Linked DNA regions of Homo sapiens: region 1 is linked to region 2. The links come from fine-mapping of genetic effects on gene expression. Tissue or cell type: aorta. Region 2 holds a variant in brackets; the other region holds the start of a gene. All regions are shown on one strand. Distances are between the middles of the regions.

Region 1 (9,009 bases), 27 kb before region 2:
TTAACCAACCAAGAATCACTGGTAATCTTCATTTTATTTTGGAGACAGAATCTCTCTCTGTGGCCCAGGCTGGAGTGCAACGGCTCGATCTCGCCTCAACACAACCTCTGCCTCCTGGGTTCAAACGATTCTCCTGCCTCAGCCTCCCGAGTAGCTGGGACTACAGGCCCGCGCCACCACGCCCAGCTAATTTTTGTGTTTTTAGTAGAGAAGGGGCTTCACTATGTTGGCCAGGCTGATCTGACTTCAGGTGATCCACCCGCCTGGGTCTCCGAAAGTGCTGGGATTACAGGCATGAGCCACCACGCCCGGCCAATCACTAGTAATTTTTAAAAGTTCAAAGCTAACTTTAAATATAAGGTGAATGTCTATCAGACTCTTTTTGTCACCGCTAATTATCACTCCAGTTTAAAATAATCATGTATCTTACAATAAGGGAATTACCACATAAAGCTGAATTTACAATAACTTATTAGCAACTTTTAACCGCTAATCATTTTATTAAAATAGTTGACTAATTTTAGAAGAACTTTAGAACACTTTAAATTCAAAATCAACACAAAATCAGTTTCAAATGAGGCTACATCAGAGCAGAGCTAAAACTTAATGTGTATGTTGTCTTTCTCTGTGTAATACCCACCTTACCAGAATGTCAGGTTCTCTCCTTTACAAGCTGTTTTCACTGTCCTTGCCCAAACTCAGTGTTACCAATCTATTTTATGTTCATGTGTAACTTTTCTACTTTTTCTGATATCTACCCCCATTTTAATTAAGTAGCTTTATAGACTGTTTTAATATTTAAGAGGGCAAGTCTACTCTTTTTTTTTTTTTTTTTTTTTTGAGATGGAGTCTCACTCTGTCACCCAGGCTGGAATGCAACGGCATTCCACTGCAACCTCCACCTCCTGGGTTTAAGCAATTCTCCTGCCTCAGCCTCCCGAGCAGCTGGAATTACAGGCGCCCACCACCACACCTGGCTGATTTTTTTTATTTGTAGTAGAGACTGGGTTTCACTATGTTGGCCAGGCTGGTCAACACCTGTCTCAGCCTCCCAAAGTGCTGGGAATACAGGCCTGAGCCACCATGTCCGGCCCTCACAACCTTTTCAACTCATATCCAAAATATCTATGAACATCTTTCCCGGAACTGACACTTTAAGTTTCACCTATTCATATGGCTGCTTCTTTCTCTAAACACCCAGTAAATGGAAACTCTATATCATGCTGGAATTATAGATGCCATCAAGCCAAGCCAGCTGCCCAGCATGGAGGAACAGGAGAGGTTGCCCTATGCCAAGAGTCTTGAGAGTCAAAGATTTCAAATATTGCCCAAATATAGTCATATTCTGAGGTACTGGGGATTAGGACTTCAATATATGTTAATGTGTACAAAGGATGGAAGGAGTTTAGGATCATACAGTATTTTTGGAAAAATTAGAATAAGTTTTAAGCTTACCCCTTTTTCCCCAATAACAAAATATTTAATGGGCCAGGTGCAGTGGCTTATGCCTGTAATCCCACCACTTTGGAAGGCCAAGGCAGGTGGATCAGTTGAGGGCACGAGTTCGAGACCAGAATGGCCATTCTCTACTAAAAATACAAAAATTAGCCAGGCATGGTGGCAGGTGCCTGTAATCCCAGCTACTCGGGAGGCTGAGGCAAGAGAATCGCTTGAACCCGGGAGGCAGAGGTTTCGGTGAGCCGAGATTGCACCATTGCACTCCAGCCTGGGTGACAGAGTGAGACTGTCTCAACAAAAACCCAAAATGTTCAATGGTTTTATAAAAATTCCACCAGGGGTCAGGCACGGTGGCTCACGCCTGTAATACCAGCACTTTGGGAGGCTGAGGCAGGTGGATCACGAGGTCAGGAAACCGAGACCATCCTGGCTAACATGGTGAAACCCCATCTCTACTAAAAATACAAAAAATTAGCTGGGCGTGGTGGCACGCACCTGTAATCCCAGCTACTCAGGAGGCTGAGGCAAGAGAATCGTTTGAACCTGGGAGACGGAGGTTGCAGTAAGCCAAGATCGTGCAACTGCACTCCAGCCTGGGTGACAAAGCGAGACTCTGTCTCAAAAAATAAAATAAAATAAATAAATAAAAATAAAAATCCCACCAGGGCCAGGTGCAGTGGCTCACGCCTCTAATCCCACCACTTTGGGAGGCCAAGGCAGGAGAATCACCTGAGGTCAGGAGTTTGAGACCACCCTTGCAACATAGTGAAATCCCGTCTCTACTAAAAATACGAAAATTAGCCAGGTGTGTTGGCACATGCCAGTAATCCCAGATACTTGGGAGGCTGAGGCAGAAGAATTGCTTGAATACGGGAGGCGGAGGTTGTAGTGAGCCGAGATCACACCACTGCACTCCAGCCTGGGTAACAGAGCGAGACTCCATCTCAAAAATAAATAAAAATAAACAATAAAAATCTCACCAGGAAAGCTGGGCACGGTGGCTCACGCCTGTAATCCCAGCACTTTGGGAGGCTGAGGTGGACGGATCACGAGGTCAGGAGATGGAGACCATCCTGGCTAACACAATGAAACCCCGTCTCTACTAAAATACAAAAAAAAAATTAGCCGGGCATGGTGGCGGGCGCCTGCAGTCCCAGCTACTCGGGAGGCTGAGGCAGGAGAATGGGGTGAACCTGGGAGGCGGAGCGTACAGTGAGCCGAGATTGCGCCACTGCACCCCAGCCTGGGGGACAGAGCGACTCCATCTCAAAAAAAAAAAAAAAAAAAAAAAGGAATGAATAAAGAAAAATGTAAAACTGAAACAAAGAAAATATTCAACATCACCTCTAATCAAAAAAGCACAATTAAAGAGACTTGTGAGTTTAAAACGCTTGCAAAAGGCTAGAATACTTTATTGCCAAGGAGTGAATAAATTCCATGAGTCAAACCAATCCAAACTGTGCTTGAACCCACAGGGCTTTTGGCACCTTTCGCCCCAAAAATTCTACTTCCAGAAAGTGGGGCGGCAAGGATAGGAGCTGTTTTGCAGAGATTGGTAATTTCAGTACAACACGTAGTGGAAAAACAACCTGGCCCATGCCGGACACCCGTGCAGCCTCGCCTTGTAGAAAAAGGTAGACAGCCGGCTCCAAGGCAGGGCGCCATCCACGAGCCAAGGTGCCTGGGAACCCTGCTCTTCCGTGGTAAATCGAAAACTACCATTAATGAACGCTGACCGCCCAGGCTTGCTTCTTGCAACGTCATCCTCTGCCCAATGGATGCCCCACTCCAGGAAAACGCACAGCTGGTGCTCTTCGGGGGATCAATTACCAGCTTCAAAGTGAGAGCCTCAGATAAGCTGCTTTAGTAGTATGTGTGAGCTCATCAGAAATGAAATTTTAAGCCCCACCCCAAAAGTACTGAATCAGAATTCTCTGGAGAAGGAGCCAAGGAAATTGTGTTTTAACAAGCTCCCAAGGTGATTTCTTACAAGCTTTAAAGTTTGAGGACCAATTATGTAAAAACAAAACAGATCACCATTTGTGAGGTTATCTGCCCCTGCATATCCGCTCCCTGTGGGTGAGGGCCTCTCTCTGACCAGAAAATCATAAAAGGATTAGGAGTTTCAAAATGATGGGAATTCAGGAAAAAAAAACAAAAACAAAAACCTACAAAACTATCACCTGCCCACCCTTCATATCAAAACATGAGTGGGAGTCAATCTTTTATAAATTTGCTTTATTATAAGTGTGTGAAGATCTTAATGCTTTTGGCAAAATAGCCATTTCTTTATTAGAATAGTTCAAACTCACTCTTGCAACAAAATAAACCACAATCCATCAAGACACAGGAAAAAGGAATACGGGGATTTAAGAATGCTATACTTGCTTTTCTTCAACTTTAGCAGCAAAAGTTAGAAAGTTAAGATGTTCCCAACAGTAACTATGTTGTCTTAAGCAACAGGATCCTGGGGAGAGTGGGGGTCTGATGCATGGGCCTTCAAGTTCTTCTCAAGGTGTTTCATCTTCTCAGCTGGAAGAGAAGCAGTTGATACTAACCATGGACAGGGACAAGTGTTTGCTGTTTCGAACTACTCCGTGACTGGGAGTTGGGGAGGAGAGAAAGATCTGCGATAGTGCTGTAACCCAGGTGAGGCTGACTTGGGCAGTGATGGGTCTGAATCTATCAGATCTCTGCTGACTTTCCCAAGGTCCTACCCCAGGATCCCCTCCCAACAAACTTCGTACAGCTAGCTCCCTGGGGTCTGGAAACCAAGAAATTTTGAGAAGGTTAAGGGAGGATGGAAGGAAACCGAGCAAGGCCAGTATGGTCACTCGTGGCTTCCTCCACATGCAGGTTCTCAAAGACCCTCACCTCGGGCACGATGTTCTCGGTGAAACCATGCCAGGCACAGGAGCATGCTCTTCACCCGATTCTGTACACGGGGCCGCCCGAAAACGGTGATTTCGACTAGGTTCCCTGAGTCCACTATGTCCACTGTCAGCAGGGCCTGGCTCGTCCACTCCATTTCTGGAATTATGGCTCGGTCTGGGCCTAAACAAGTAAGGAAAAACTCTGAGGGGCTGCACGGTGGCAGGTTAGAAGCTGGATTTGAAGGGAATGTTGGCCAGGGAAGGGAAGAACTGGAAGGTGGGCATCACTGCAACACTCCTGGCTTGCGAATCTGGGAAAGAGACTGTAGAGAGCTGCTCTGCCAAGCCTCTCTCAGACTGGAGGTGGACAGCCCACTAGCACACCTGGGGTCGCTCACCAAAGAGCTCGTCTGCCAGCCATGCCTCTAGGTAGAACACCAAAGGGTCTCTCAGTTCCTGCACCGGAAACCACCAGGGCCGGATGCGAATCTGTGGCGGCGGAAGTGGTAACCTACGCAGCTGCTCCAGGGAGTGGGCCGGAGTCTGTTTGCCCCGCTGGGACTCAGCGGCACCAGCATCATCGACCATACTGGGACCAGCAGCCGCGGAGCGCGCTCGAGGCGGCTTTCGCAAGACCTCTTCCAGACCCAGGCGCGAAGCTCGGGCTCTCTTTTACCATATTCGACCCGCTCCGCCCCTTCCGGCGGCGCCTCGCACCGCGTCGGGGTGAGCGGGTGCAAGCGACGCCCCGGCATAGCGGCACCATTGGACACTTCCTGCGCTGCTTCAATCGCCGGGATTGCCTCTTTGACCTTGAACTAGTATTCATTTGGCCTCCTGTTGGGTCTCCAATGCTCTCCTTCGTCATCTCTGCTCGTAAGGTATGCTTAGCCTGAAAGTCCTCTGCCCACCTTATAGCTGATTAACAGTGTGAGTTTGAATTGACGACTCTATTAATAGACTGGGAATCACCTTTGCTGGCTAGGTTAAGGTTTCATCGTTGCCTCCCAAAGATAGGTATATCGGACCCAGGGCAGGCTTGTTCAATGTGTCAGTTTTCTCTGTTCTGCTCCCTGTTGTTATCTTCTGACTCTCCGGATGGTTACCATTTTTAAATCATTCAAGCAAGTGTGTCATGTTTTAAACAACACGTCAGAGGTGGTCTTATAGAACATGTAGCAAGTTAGACAATTTTCCTTTATTTCCAGTATCCTAAGACAACCATTATCGATGGACATTTTTTCCCAATGTTTGTAATTTTAATTAAAAATTTGGATTATGAAAGGTTTCACACATCCAAAAAAGTAATATAACACGGCCATGTACCCTCCCCGAGTTTAACAGATGTTGACATTTCCCCACATTTGCCTCACTCCTCTGTTTTTAAAACAGATATTACTCAAGCATCTTTCCTTTCCTTCTCCAGAGGAAATCATCCTGAAGCTAGTGTGTATATATCATCCCCATGCATGTCCTTACACATTTTCTACTATATTTGTAGAAATATTGTTTGGTTGTTTCAGAATAGTATCTGCTGAATATACTATTTCGTTCTTACAATTAACTATGTGTTTGTTTTAAAACTTCTATTTTTCTGAGATAGGTCTCACTCTCTTGCCTAGGCTGGAATGCAGTGGCACGATCTCGGTTCACTGAAGCCTCGACCTCCCAGGCCTAAGCGACCCTCCCATCTCAGCCTCCTGAGTAGCTGAGACCACAGGCACCTGCCACCACACCCAGCTATTTTCCAGCTCTTTTTGTTGTTGTTGTTGTTTGTCTGTTTGTAGAGACAGGGTCCCACTATGTTGCCAGGCTGGTTTTGAACTCCTAGGCTCAAGCAGTCCTCTCACTTTGGCCTCCCAAAGTGCTGGGATTACAGGCGTGAGCCACCACAGCCAGCATAGAAGAAAAAACTCAAAATAGTGAAAAGCATGTTCCAGACTCCACATGATCATCTAGGACTGTGTGGAGGTTCCAGTTTTCTGCCCCTGATCCCACCCCCTCTCACCCTCAATGGTTTCTGAGAAAACTTGACTATCAGGTGTGCAGGGCATACTTACAGGAAAACAAGATTTAGCTATGGCTCTGATGCAATAAACATTTAAAACCTTAACCTGGCCAGGCAAGGTGGCTCATGCCTATAATCCCAGCACTTCGGGAGGCCAAGGCAGGAGGATCACTTGAGGTCAGGAGTTTGAGACCAGCCTGACCAACATGGAGAAAACCGGTCTCTACTAAAAATACAAAAATTAGATGGGTGTGGGCCAGACACGGTCACTCATGCCTGTAATCCCAGCACTTTGGGAGGCTGAGGCGGGCAGATCACCTGAGGTCGGGAGTTCGAGACCAGCCTGACCAACATGGAGAAACCTAGTCTGTACTAAAAATACAAAAGATTAGCCGGACATGGTGGTGCATGCCTATAATCCCAGCTACTCAGGAGGCTGAGGCAGGAGAATCACTTGAACCCAGGAGGCGGAGGTTGTCGTGAGCCAAGATCACACCATTGCACTCCAGCCTGGACAACAAGAGCAAAACTCTGTCTCAAAAATAAAAAAAAATAAAAATAAAAAAATTTGGCCAGTGTGTGGTGGTTACCTGCAATCCCAGCTACTCGAAAGGATGAGGCAGGAGAATTGCTTGAACCCCAGAGGCAGAGGTTGCAGTGAGCCAAAATGGCACCACTACACTCCAGCCTGGGCTACAGAGTGAGACTCCATCTCAAAAAACAAACAAAAACCCCTTAACCTAATCAAGGCCAGATATTGTGGCTCGTGCCTGTAATCCCAGCCCTTTAGGAGGTGGAGGCTAGCAGATCGCTTAAGCCAAGGGGTTTGAGGGTGCAGTGAGCCATGATCACACCACTGCACTCCTGCTTGGGTGACAGAGCGAGACCCTAAAAATAAACCTAAAAAAATTAAAGCCTTAATCTAATCATGAGACGCACTTACATTACTGTAGACAAAGAATATTTTACCCAGCATGTATAGAATTTTAACAGCTTCTTTAGGGGGACTGTGGTGATCTGAGCCACACAGGAATAAGTTAACTTCTCTCAAATTCCACTTCCTGGTGTGGAAAAGATGGCACCCCATTATCTTGTGGGGATCTTCTGCCATAAACCCCACATAAATCCCCAGCATGCTGGACACCGTGAAGCAGTTAGTCTCAGATACAACTCAGTCTCAGGTGTAGCCCAACAGTGGCTAGTTCAGTTATTTCTTCCTCAAGGAAGAAATGATCCTGTGGGATTACTGCTCTCCCCTGAGGAAAGAACCTCCCTGCTCAGTGAGAGGCCAGAATCTGATTCGCAAGTGTTGGTTTCGCATCTCTCAGCTTTGGGGAGACCGATAGGCCTTTGCACCTGAGCCTGCCAAAACAGGAGGGCTATTGTGCAAGAAAACCTTTTGGGAGCTCAGTCAGTCACGTGGGCCTCCTTGGAAGCCTGGGGACAAGTGGGCAGTTTTCCCGAGTGCATGGAAGCCAACACCAGAGACTGAGGTGGAGAGATGCACTGAGCCAACTTGGCTGGGTTAATAGAACACTTTTCCCGCCATCTGGGTTAGCTTCTTGGGGTGCCAGGGATCCTGCAGTGGGCCTGACGCCAGCCCGAGATCAAAATGGGAAAGCGGCCAGAGCAAACTGACGTTTCACAGAGCTCTTAAGGGCCGGAAGATTCTTTCTCACCTTCTCTTTTTCTTTCCTTTTTTTTTTTTTTTTTTTTAAAAACGAAAGGCCTCACATATTTATTACTGAATCCAGCCAACCAACGTGTTCATAACAGATTCAGAGAGGAAAACACGTCGAAATCTCCAGATAGTGGTGACATTTTCAGCTTGATATGGTAACATGATCGTGACCTTCAGACAGCATAAATATGTGTGCCATCTCATGTGCAATTCCTTATAGACCCAGCTTGGTTCTTCTCCAATGTCTCCTTTTGGAGTTGTACCTGATTTTATTTCCAGTTTTCATCCGAATCCACTGGGGAATGGGACGATTTTGCTTTTGTTTCTTGGCCAGGAATCGCTTAATCCTGAAAGTCTTGTGAGAAGACATGGCGAGCAGCGGAGTCAAGAACACACCACGATGGCGGAGAAAGGAAGAGGGCTCCTTCTCTTCTTTTGTTTTCTTTTTTGAGACAGGGTCTCACTCTGTCACCCAGGCTAGAGTGCAGTGGCACGATCTCAGCTCACTGGGTAGCTGAGGCAGGTGCATGCCATCACACCCACTGTAGAGACAGAGGTCTCCCTATGTTGCCCAGGCTGGTCTCGAACTCCTGGGCTCAAGCAGTCCTCCTGCCTTGGCCTCCCAAAATGTTGGACTACAGGCATGAGCCACTGCAACTGGCCAGGGCCAGAAGATTTTAAGTATGCAATTATTTTTTATTTATTTATTTATTTAGAGACGGAGTTTTGCTCTTTTGCTCAGGCTGGAGTGCAATGGCGAATCTTGGCTCACTGCAACCTCCGCCTCCTGGGTTCAAGTGATTCTCCTGCCTAGGCCTCCCAAGTAGCTGGGATTACAGGCATGCACCACCACACCCAGCTAATTTTGTATTTTTACTAGAGGTGGAGTTTCACCATGTTGTCCAGGCTGGTCTCGAACTCCTGACCTCAGGTGATCTACCCACCTCGGCCTCCCAAAGTGCTGAGATTATAGCCTTGAGCCACTGCGC
Region 2 (10,245 bases):
TAGCCTTCTCTCTCTAACAATAACTGAGTTGAGAATACTCAGATTGGCATCCACAATACAACCTTGAACAGATTTGTGCATTCTTTCTTCAGTTCTCCTTGGAGGAGAGGAATACCCCTTACTCAGTAGCAGGCAGACACAGTCTTGGGTCAAAATACCCTGCTTCATGAGGAAGCCTCGTCTGTTGTCCCCACCACTGATTCCGACCACATAACCCTTCTATTCTTCACCTAGAGCATCAGCATCAACATCTGTGACTATAGCTTCTCAGAAAAAGTATGACATTTGCAATCCTCATCCACTTCAAAGAGATTCTGGCAGCCAGAGGCTGGGAAGGAGACATTCAGCTTCATGTTGAAGCAGCTGATTGTCTCTGAGGCACCATGAAAAGGAGAGGTTTTTATAAGTGTTGTTTATCAAGAGAAACTATTTCTTAGCCCACATATTCCCATTTCTTAGTTCACGAACACAGGTCAGTGACAAGCACCTGAGGTTTCTTCAAAGCACTGGAAGCCATTGTTTATGAGTCATGGTTATTGTCTTTGATGGGTATGTCCTTCCTGGCTGTTGAAAGTTCCTAGTTTACGTGAAGGTTCACTCTCAGTGTTAGAATAATTTTGGCCTCATAGAATGAGTTAGGAAGTATCCCTCTGCTTCTACTTTCTGGAAGAGATTCTATGAGGCCAGCATTACCCTAATACTAAAACCAGTCAAAGACATTACAAGAAAAGTACAGACCAGTATTTCTGACTAACATAGATGCAAAAATCCTTAATAAAATCTCAGCACGTTGAATCCAACAAAATTCCTTTCTAAAGATTGTTAATACTACCCATTTCAGATTAAAGATTAGAGAATGGAGATTAAATGCCTATCATTTATTTAATGTTTTTTTATCTTTTTTTTGAGATGGAATTTCACTCTTGTTGCCCAGGCTGGAGTGCAATGGCGCAATCTTGGCTCACTGCCAACTTCTGCCTCCCAGGTTCAAGCAATTCTCTCACCTCAGCTTCTCAAGTAGCTGGGATTACAGACATTCGCCACCATGCCTGGCTAATTTTTTGTATTTAGTAGAGATGGGGTTTCACCACGTTGGTCAGGCTGGTCTTGAACTCCTGACCTCAGATGATCTACCCACCTCAACCTCCCAAGGTGCTGAGATTACAGGTGTGAGCCACCGCGCCTGGCCTATTTCCTAGGTAATCTTTTTTTTTTTTTTTTTTTTTTTTTTTTTGAGATGGAGTCTCTCGCTCTGTCATCAGGCTGAAGTGCAGTGGCACAATCTTGGCTCACTGCAACCTCTGCCTCCCGGGTTCAAGCAATTATTCTGCCTCAGCCTCCCAAGTAGCTGGGACTACAGGCGCACACCACCACGCCCAGCTAATTTTTGTATTTTTAGTAGAGATGGGGTTTTACCATGTTGGCCAGGATGGTCTCGATCTCTTGACCTTGTGATCCAGCCGCCTCTGCCTCCCAAAGTGCTGGGATTACAGGCATGAGCCACCACATCCAGCCAATATTTTTTGCATTTTTATTAGAGATGGGGTTTCACCATGTTGACCAGGCTGGTCACGAGCTCCAGACCTCAAGTGATCTGCCTGCCTCACATTCCCAAGGTGCTGGGATTACAGCCATGAGCCACACCATGCCTGGCCTGGTGTCCACTGTGTTTGATGGATGATTGAACTGAAAAAAAAAAAATTTTTTTTTTTTGAGACAGGGTCTCTGCTCTGTTGCCCAGACTGGAGTGCAGTGACACCATTTCGGCACTTCGGCTCACTGTAGCCTCAACCTCCCTGGCTCAGTGATCCTCCCACCTCAGCCTCCTGAGTAGCTGGGACTACAGCCTGTACCACCACACCCGGCAGGGTCTCACTATGTTACCCAGACTGATGTTGAACCTTGGGGCTCAAGAGATCCTCCGCCTAGGCCTCCTAAAGTGTTGAGATTACAGGTATGAGTTATCCCTGCTGGCCTAAACTGAAATTTGTTCAGATAATTCAAAGATCCTAATCAAAGGAGTGCACTTGCAGCTGGCTTGAAGCCCTGGAGTAGTAGTATGTCCAGCCACAGAGCCAGGCTGCAGTGACGGTAATGCTTCAGGAATCTATTCAATTTATTTCCTTAGCTCTAAAATTATGGCAGGCCAGGCACTGTGGCTCATACCTGTAATCCCTCAACTGTGTGAGGCCAAGGCAGGAGGAGTTGGATACCAGCCCGGGCAACATAGGGAGGTCTTGTCTTTACAAAATAATTAGCCTGGCATGGTGGTGCACACCTGTAGTCCCAACTATTCGGGAGGCTGTGGTGGGAGTATCACTTGAGTCCAACAGGTCGAATCTGCAGTGAGTGATCGCACCACTGCACTCCAGCCTAGGCGACAGAGGTCAAAAACAAAACAAAAGAAAACAAACAAAAAAAACATAGCAAACATCCAGAAGACTGTGTAGAGCAATGAATGTCTCTCAAGCCAGTGATCTTTTTCTCTTCATTTTTCACATCAGGTGGGTAGTGTGCCCACTTCGTAACAAGGTTTGAGGGAGGCACATTTGACACAAGAGCATGAAAACCCAATCACACTTATGACTTACAAAAGGATCAAGTCAGTGATCTTTAAGCTGTGGGCCATTAAATACATTTTGTGAGCCGAGTGCAGTGGCTCAGGCCTGTAACCCCAGCACTATGGGAGGTGGAGGTGGGAGGATCACTTGAGTCCAGGAGTTCAAGACCAGCCTTGGGCAACATACTGGGAACTCCCATCTCTATTAAATTTTTTTTTTTTAATTTTGTGGATTACAACCATTTCAAAAACTAAAATAAGCGTAAATGTATCAAAATGCAGCTTACATAGCGAGGATAAATGCTGTTTTGTCAATCTGTTGTTTCAAGTTTTTTATGTGTGGATTGGGTCACCTTGTAACAGTGACTTACCTTTATGGGTCACGGTTGAAAACATTTCCGGTGCAGTGGCTGACTGTAATCCCAGCACTTTGGGAGGCCGAGGCTGGAAGATCACTTGAAGCCAGAAGCCAAGAGTTCAAGACCTGCCTGGGCAACACGGCGACACCCCGTCTCTATTTAAAAAGAAAAAAAAAAGTTTCCAAGGCACTGAGATGCCAGGAACCCGAGGTGTGTGTCCAGTAGGGGAGGGAGCAAATTGGGCGTTTGGAAAAAGTCCCACGCCTGGAAAGGAATACACAGTGGGGGGGTGGGGGGCGGGGCACATCGACTACTTCAAGGCACACTCCCACGGTTCAGAAAACCGATTGGCTAAAACTGGGAAAGTCCCGCCCACAACGCTCACTGGCCAATGGCTGCGTGAAATCAGTGCGAAGTGGGCGGGATAGAGAGCGTGGGCGGGGGGGCTAGCCTCGTGCGGGCTCCTTAAGTAGCGGCTGCGTGGCTTCCCTGGCACGCTA[C/G]TCTTACGACGTCACGGTCAGGTGGTGCAGAGCTGGACGGCAACGACGTCGGACGCGCCCCTTCTTGGAACAATGTCCCACCACGGAGGAGCTCCCAAGGCCTCTACGTGGGTCGTTGCTAGTCGGCGAAGCTCGACAGTGTCCCGAGCGCCAGAGAGGAGGCCGGCGGAGGAGTTGAATCGAACAGGTCCTGAGGGATATAGTGTCGGCAGAGGTGGTCGCTGGAGAGGCACCTCTAGGCCCCCGGAGGCCGTGGCCGCTGGTCACGAGGAACTGCCGCTGTGTTTTGCTTTGAAGAGCCACTTTGTTGGCGCGGTAATCGGTGAGAATGGGAGTGGCTGGCAGGGCAGGATAGGTGGGGCCAGGGGCGGAGCCTGGGCGAAGGCATTTCCTCCCCACTGCCTCACCTCCAATCAGCTGCCACCTAGTGAGGTTCAGGTCTCTCCCAGAGCTATTTGTAAAACCTGGGGATAGAGTATAATTTAATCTGGCCGGGCGCGTTGGCTCACGCCTGTAATCCCAGTATTTTGGGAGGCCGAGGCGGGCGGATCACCCCAGGTCAGGAATTCGAGACCAGCTTGGCCAACATGGCAAAACCCTGTCTCTACTAAAAATATATATATTAAAAAAAATAGCTGGGCGTGGTGGCGCGCGCCTGTAATCCCAGATACTCCGGAGGCTGAGGCAGGAGAATGGCTTGAACCCGGCGGCAGAAGTTGGCAGTGAGCTGAGATCGCGCCACTGCACTCCAGCCTAGGTGACAGAGCAAGACTCCGTCTCAATTAAAAAAAAAAAAAAAAAGTAATTTAATCCACCTTTTGGTGTTTATACAGACAATGTATTTGGGAGAGCAACTCCTAGAAGACTTATGAAATCTTAGGGCTGAAGAGGGATGCTTAGAACAGGCCTTTTAACAGACAGCTAACCCCAGAATGAAAAACAAAACTTAATCAGTCTTTCTATGAGTACCATTTAGAGCCAGAAATCAAAGAAAAGCTATAAGGTCATTGTAGGGCTGCCTAGAGCAGTTGTATCTTGCTTTTAGTTTCCTTAATTTTTAAAAAGTTAAAAACTTTTCTTACTACATCTTGAGTGTTAACATTCAATTCTGAATTTTTAATTTTTTTCTTTCTTTTGATTTTTTTTTTTTTTGAGGCAGCTCTGTGGCCCCAGCTGGAGTGCAGTGTGGCGTGATCTCGGCTCACTACAACTTCCACCTCCCGGGCTCAAGCGATTCTAGCACCTCAGCCTCCCTAGTAGCTGAAATTACGTGCGCCACCACACCTGGCTAATTTTTGTGTTTTTAGTAAAGATGAGGTTTCACCATATTACCCAGGATGGTCTCGAACTCCTGTGGATCCACCCACCTCGGCCTCCCAAAGTGCTGAGATTACAGGCGTAAGCCCGGCCCATTTCTGAATTTTTTTGAAAAGCATTTAAAAATGATTAGAATGATTACCCCATTGATTGCCATTAAGCCCGAGTATAAATTGCCACATTTTACCTATTAGGTGTATTTCACCCTTTTTAAAACCTGAGAAAAATGAATAGATGGAGGCTGCTACAAAATAGTGCATTGTAAGACTAATTGCTGTACTACCCAGAGACTCATTGGCCTTTCAGAAGGCTTGGGCTCAGATCTGAAGAATGATGCTCCAAGAAAGAAAGCCACTAGGTTTGCAATAAAAATCACTTAAGTTAATACTTAGCAGATGAAAGGGCACTGTGCTACAGAGCACTCACTTGATGTTGGATCTGGATCCATCTTTTTTATTGTAAAAAATGAAATACCCTCTTTTAAACGTATATCACAATACTAATAATAAGCACAATGTTGTATCCCAGATCTCTGGAACTTGCATGACTAAAACTGTATACTCATTGAACAGCTCCCCATTTTTTCCTGCCCCATCCCAGGGACCCACCATTTACATTGTTTCTGAGTTAGATTACTTTAGGTAATCCATATAAGTAGAATCATGCAGTAATTGTCTTTGTAATTGGCTCATTTCTCTAAGAATAATATCCTCCAGGCTTACCCATTTTGTAGCATGAGACAGGATTTTTTTCCTTACTAAGGCTGAATGGTATTCCATTATTAAGTATATACCTTACTTTATCTATTAATCAGTCTATGATAAATGGGTAGCTTCCACCTTTTGATTTCAGTAGTGTTATTATGAAAATGGAAGTGCAATATATCTTTGAGACTCAGCTTTAAATTCTTTTGGATGTATACCCCAAGTGAGACTGCTGGATCATATGTTAATTCTGTTTTTAATTTTTTAGTTAATCTATACTGTTTTCCATAGTGGCAGCACCATTTTCAATCCCACCAACAGTACACAGGGGTTCCAATTTCTCCACATTCTTACCAACACTTTTTTTCTGTTTTTGATAATGGTCATCCTACCAGATGTGAGGTGACAATCATTTTGTGGTTTCGATTTGCGTGGACCTGATTAGTGATGTTGAACATCTCATGCCTGTTGGCCATTTGTATGTCATTGGAGAAATGTCTATTCAAGTGTTTGCCCATTTTTCAAAACTTATTTGTTGAGTTGTATGAAAGAGTTCCAATTTCTACATCCTCTCCACCAGTTTGGACCCAATTAAGTTTTGTGCAAGCTGATACAGAATCCATAGTCTCCACCTGTCTGGGATAAGAGTCTCCTAAAACCCACCAAAATTTGGAATAGAACCTCTTACTTCCCTCTTTCCAAACAAAAAATGATTGTTGAACCCTAGGAGCATTTGGGGGGAAGAACTAGAGAATGTTTGTTGAGGAAAATGGGTAAATTTTCAACTTACTAATTTCAACTTATAACAATATATTCCTTTATTTTTAAAAACAGGTCGTGGTGGGTCAAAAATAAAGAATATACAAAGTACAACAAACACCACAATCCAAGTAAGCCATCTGTGTTTTTCGGCCCTTAAGAGAGCATCATGCATTTCTAAGGGAGCACCTAACTCTACTTTTCTTTTTAAGACAGCCTCATTCTGTCTCCCAGGCTGGAGTGCAGTGACGTGATATCAGTACAACCTCTGCCTCCTGGGTTCAAGCAATTCTCCTGCTTCAGCCTCCTGAGTAGCTGGAATTACGGGTTCCCACCACCAAGCCCAGCTAATTTATTTTATTTTATTTTTTTATTTTTAGTAGAGACGGGGTTTTACCGTGTTGGCCAGGCTGCTCTCAACTCCTGGCCTCAAGTGATCCACTTGCCTTGGCCTCCCAAAGTGTTGGGATTACAGGCATGAGCCACTGCACCAGGCCTTAACTCTAATTTCTGCTGAGTTATTAACATACTAGGGTAAATTAGGTAAGTTGCCAAAGTTCTTCATACTCCTTATTCTCAAGAAGCCACCTGAATTTTAAGCTGTTCCAGGTGTAGGTTTTGGGACTCTTGGAGGTAAAAATCTTTTTTATTTTTTTGAGACAGAGTCTCACTCTGTCGCCCAGGCTGGAGTGCAGTGGCACGATCTTGGGTCACTGCAACCTCTGCCTCCCGGGTTGAAGCAATTCTCCTGCCTCAGCCTCTGGAGTAGCTGGGATTACAGGCCCCCGCCACCATATCTGGCTAATTTTTGTATTTTTAGTAGAAATGGGGTTTCACCATGTTGGCCAGGCTAGTCTTGAACTCCTGACCTCGGGTGATCCGCCCACCTCTGCCTCCCAAAGTGCTGGGATTACAGGCGTGAGCCACCAGGCCCAGTCGGAGGTAAAAATCGTTAGAGATAATCTGCATAAGAATGAGATCACTGGAATATTCGGAGGTAAAAATCGTTAGAGATAATCTGCATAAGAATGAGATCACTGGAATATTCATCATGTCCAAAAGGTCTTCCTTCCAGAGAGAACCCCTTTCCTCAAACTTTGGCTAGCTCTTGTATTCTCAATCTTAGTGAATGGTAGCAACATTCACTGAGTTTACAAGTTTGTAATCTGACTATCCACATTGGTATTTCCTTATTCTCATTCACCGCTAGGTCTTGACTATTTCTTGTACTTCTCAAGGGGAATGTCATCATTTGCCTTCCCCACTAACTGTATGTCCTGCTTCCATTTGTATCCTCTAATCATTCTCCACTGTGGTCAGAACAATAATTTTATTTTTTTATATTTTTTTGAGACGGAGTCTTGCTCTGTCGCCCAGGCTGAAGTGCACTGGTGTGCTCTTAGCTCACCGCAACCACTGCCTCCTGGGTTCAAGAGATTCTCCTGCCTCAGCTTCCAGAGTAGCTGGGATTACAGGTGCCCTTCCAGCTCACCTGGCTAATTTTTGTACTTTAAGTAGAGACAGGGTTTCACTATGTTGGCCAGGCTGGTCTCAAACTCCTGACCTCAAATAATCCACCCGCCTCAGCCTCCCAAAGTGCTGGGATTACAGGTGTGAGCCACTGCGCTTGGCTAGAACAATCATTTTAAAACACAAATTATTTGTGTCCTTTTCCTATGTGAAAGCCTTTCATAGTATCTCAGGCCTGTAAGTCTAGACTCCTTAAAGTTGCTGACTTGATTCTGGCCTGTTCACTCTCTCCAGTGTCCTCTCCCCTAATTCCTTGAGTACTCCACCCACTTCCTGACATACGCTGCTACCATAGCTTTTTCCTCATAAATAATTCCTTCTCACCTTTCAGGGAAGTCTAAGGCCCCCATTCTGTGTAGCTGTCCATTTCCATAGCATCCCATAATGGCCTCGTTTCAGCACTCATACAGAGTTATAGTGCGTGTAAATACTGTAGTTGATAAACATTGTTTGAATTGCCAACCTAAGACAAAATTTGGTGTATAGTATTTTCTAGATAAATATTGAATCCATTAGGGTATTTGAAATTATGGATGTTGATAGGTGTTACTTGTAGATTCTATTCACAAAATGTGTCAGTCTTGTAAACGTAAGCCCCTGACAGTATACATGAGTTAAGGATAGAATCCCATCAAGTTAAAAATTTACCTAAGTAACCTGGCAGTTCAGTGAACTCTCTATATAGTGCATAGATTATGTCATTTCAGCCCTACAATTCTGTAAAATTAGCGAAACAAATACCATTTTATAGGTTGGAGACCTCAGAATCAAAATAATATTACCTGTCAGGTTAGTGCCTTAATTATTTCTCTACACTATTTGCTGAGTTTATTCCCTAGCTATCCAATTTTAAATGTTCAGGTTGTCCTGCCCCTCTCCATCTGACTAGGAGGTAAATCCCAGAGTAAATATAAGTAGTATTCCTCTCTAACTAGAAATTTAGACATTGATTGGTGGTAATACTGTATTTACTTTATACTGTAATAGATTTTGAAGTTGAGTGATTGTTGGAAGGGGTTAGGGGCTTAGGGAACTTTTTATGTTTTTTAGGGAAATTTTAAGTCTCACCTCTTTTTCCCCTTGTACCTAGATAATACAAGAACAACCAGAATCATTAGTCAAAATTTTTGGCAGCAAGGCAATGCAAACGAAAGCAAAAGCAGTGATAGACAATTTTGTTAAAAAGCTAGAAGAAAATTACAATTCAGAATGCGGAATTGGTAAGTAATTTTCTCCCACTGAACCCCTTTAAAAGTTTTTAATTTCATTCAGTGTTATAAGCCATTATACCTGATTTCACTTTCTGATTCAAAGCATTAGGCTGCCATAAATGCAGTCTTAATGATTTTTTACTATGAATGAAAGCCCAGAATATTTTTCCTCAAATTAAAATACCAGAGCTCTATGTTCATGCCTAGCAGTTTTACTTTTAGCCACAGGTAAGTGAAAATGAAATAACCCTTTATTTTTATTTATTTATTTTTTGTCTTTGTATTAATCTAGTTCTCACAAGCAGGGAAATAACCCTTTAATACACACACTTTAGTGTTAGTGGGTAGAGTAAGGATTGGTCCCAGGATCCTAACCCTAGTCTTGTCTTCAGATTCATGGCTGACATTGAAAACTGCTTAAATATTTGGTTATTTTAAAAATCTCAGATCTGTTTAGAATAGAGAAAACAATTACTGAATCATATCTAGATGCAATGTGAAAGTAGAATAGAGACACCTGGGTTTAGAAGGCACCATTGCCTTTTAGTGTTTCTTGGGGAAAAAGACAAGGTCTAAGATTCTATTTTTATATCTGACTCATTTATTTATTTTTATTTTTATTTTATTTTTAAAATTGTTTTGAGACAGGTTCTCACTGTGTTTTCCAGGCTGGAGTGCAGTGGTGTGATCATGGCTCATTATAGCCTTGACCTCCTGGGCGGGAGTGATTCTCCCACCTCAGCCTGTCAAGTAGCTGGGACCACAGGTGTGTGCCACCACACCCAGCTAATTAAATTTTTTGTAGAGTAGAGATGGGGTTTCACCACGTTGCCTAGGCTAGTCTTGAGTCCTGAATTCAAGCGATCCTCCACACCAGCCTCACAAAGTGCTGGTATTACAGGAGTGAGCTACCAAGCCTGGCTCTTCATCTACTCATCTGAGATAATATCTGCTTCCCAGGACTATTATTCTAACGACTGAGTAATGGGTATGACAATATTTTAGCAAACATTAGACTTGTGCTATTTTACTTACCTTCTCCAATAAAATTAAATTTTTATAAGTTGTTGAATGATAACAAATGACAAGGTTGTCATGTTAATGTAGTACAGAAACCCCAAATTTTATATTTTAAGCATTGTCTGTTTATTAAAAAACAAAATAGAGGCCAGGCATGGTGGCTCACGCCTGTAATCCCAGCACTTTGGGAAGCCAAGGTGGGTGGATCACAAGGTCAGGAGATCGAGACCATCCTGGCTAACACGGTGAAACCCCGTCTCTACTATAAAATACAAAAATTAGCTG

The links. PIP is the estimated chance that this variant, and not a neighbour inherited with it, causes the effect.
Region 1: it holds the start of OOEP, and the variant in region 2 is fine-mapped to the expression of OOEP in aorta (GTEx, PIP above 0.99).

What each region holds. Positions count from the first base shown.
Region 1 is chr6:73,364,874-73,373,882 of GRCh38, forward strand. It overlaps OOEP (oocyte expressed protein), which reads right to left and starts at 5,024. Exons shown (of 3, transcript NM_001080507.3): 1 at 4,730-5,024; 2 at 4,333-4,512; 3 at 3,682-3,990. The coding sequence starts at 4,919. The coding sequence ends at 3,911. It overlaps OOEP-AS1 (OOEP antisense RNA 1), which reads left to right and starts at 4,831. Exons shown (of 2, transcript NR_174946.1): 1 at 4,831-5,212. It also overlaps the pseudogene RPL39P3.
Region 2 is chr6:73,391,415-73,401,659 of GRCh38, forward strand. It overlaps DDX43 (DEAD-box helicase 43), which reads left to right and starts at 3,414. Exons shown (of 17, transcript NM_018665.3): 1 at 3,414-3,741; 2 at 6,275-6,330; 3 at 8,820-8,949. The coding sequence starts at 3,492. It overlaps LOC124901538 (small nucleolar RNA U13), which reads right to left and starts at 2,599; the gene lies at 2,499-2,599. It also overlaps a transcript of OOEP not described here and the pseudogene RPS6P8. RefSeq lists enhancers at 3,031-3,531, 6,932-7,589. The variant C/G (reference allele first, on the strand shown) is at 3,420.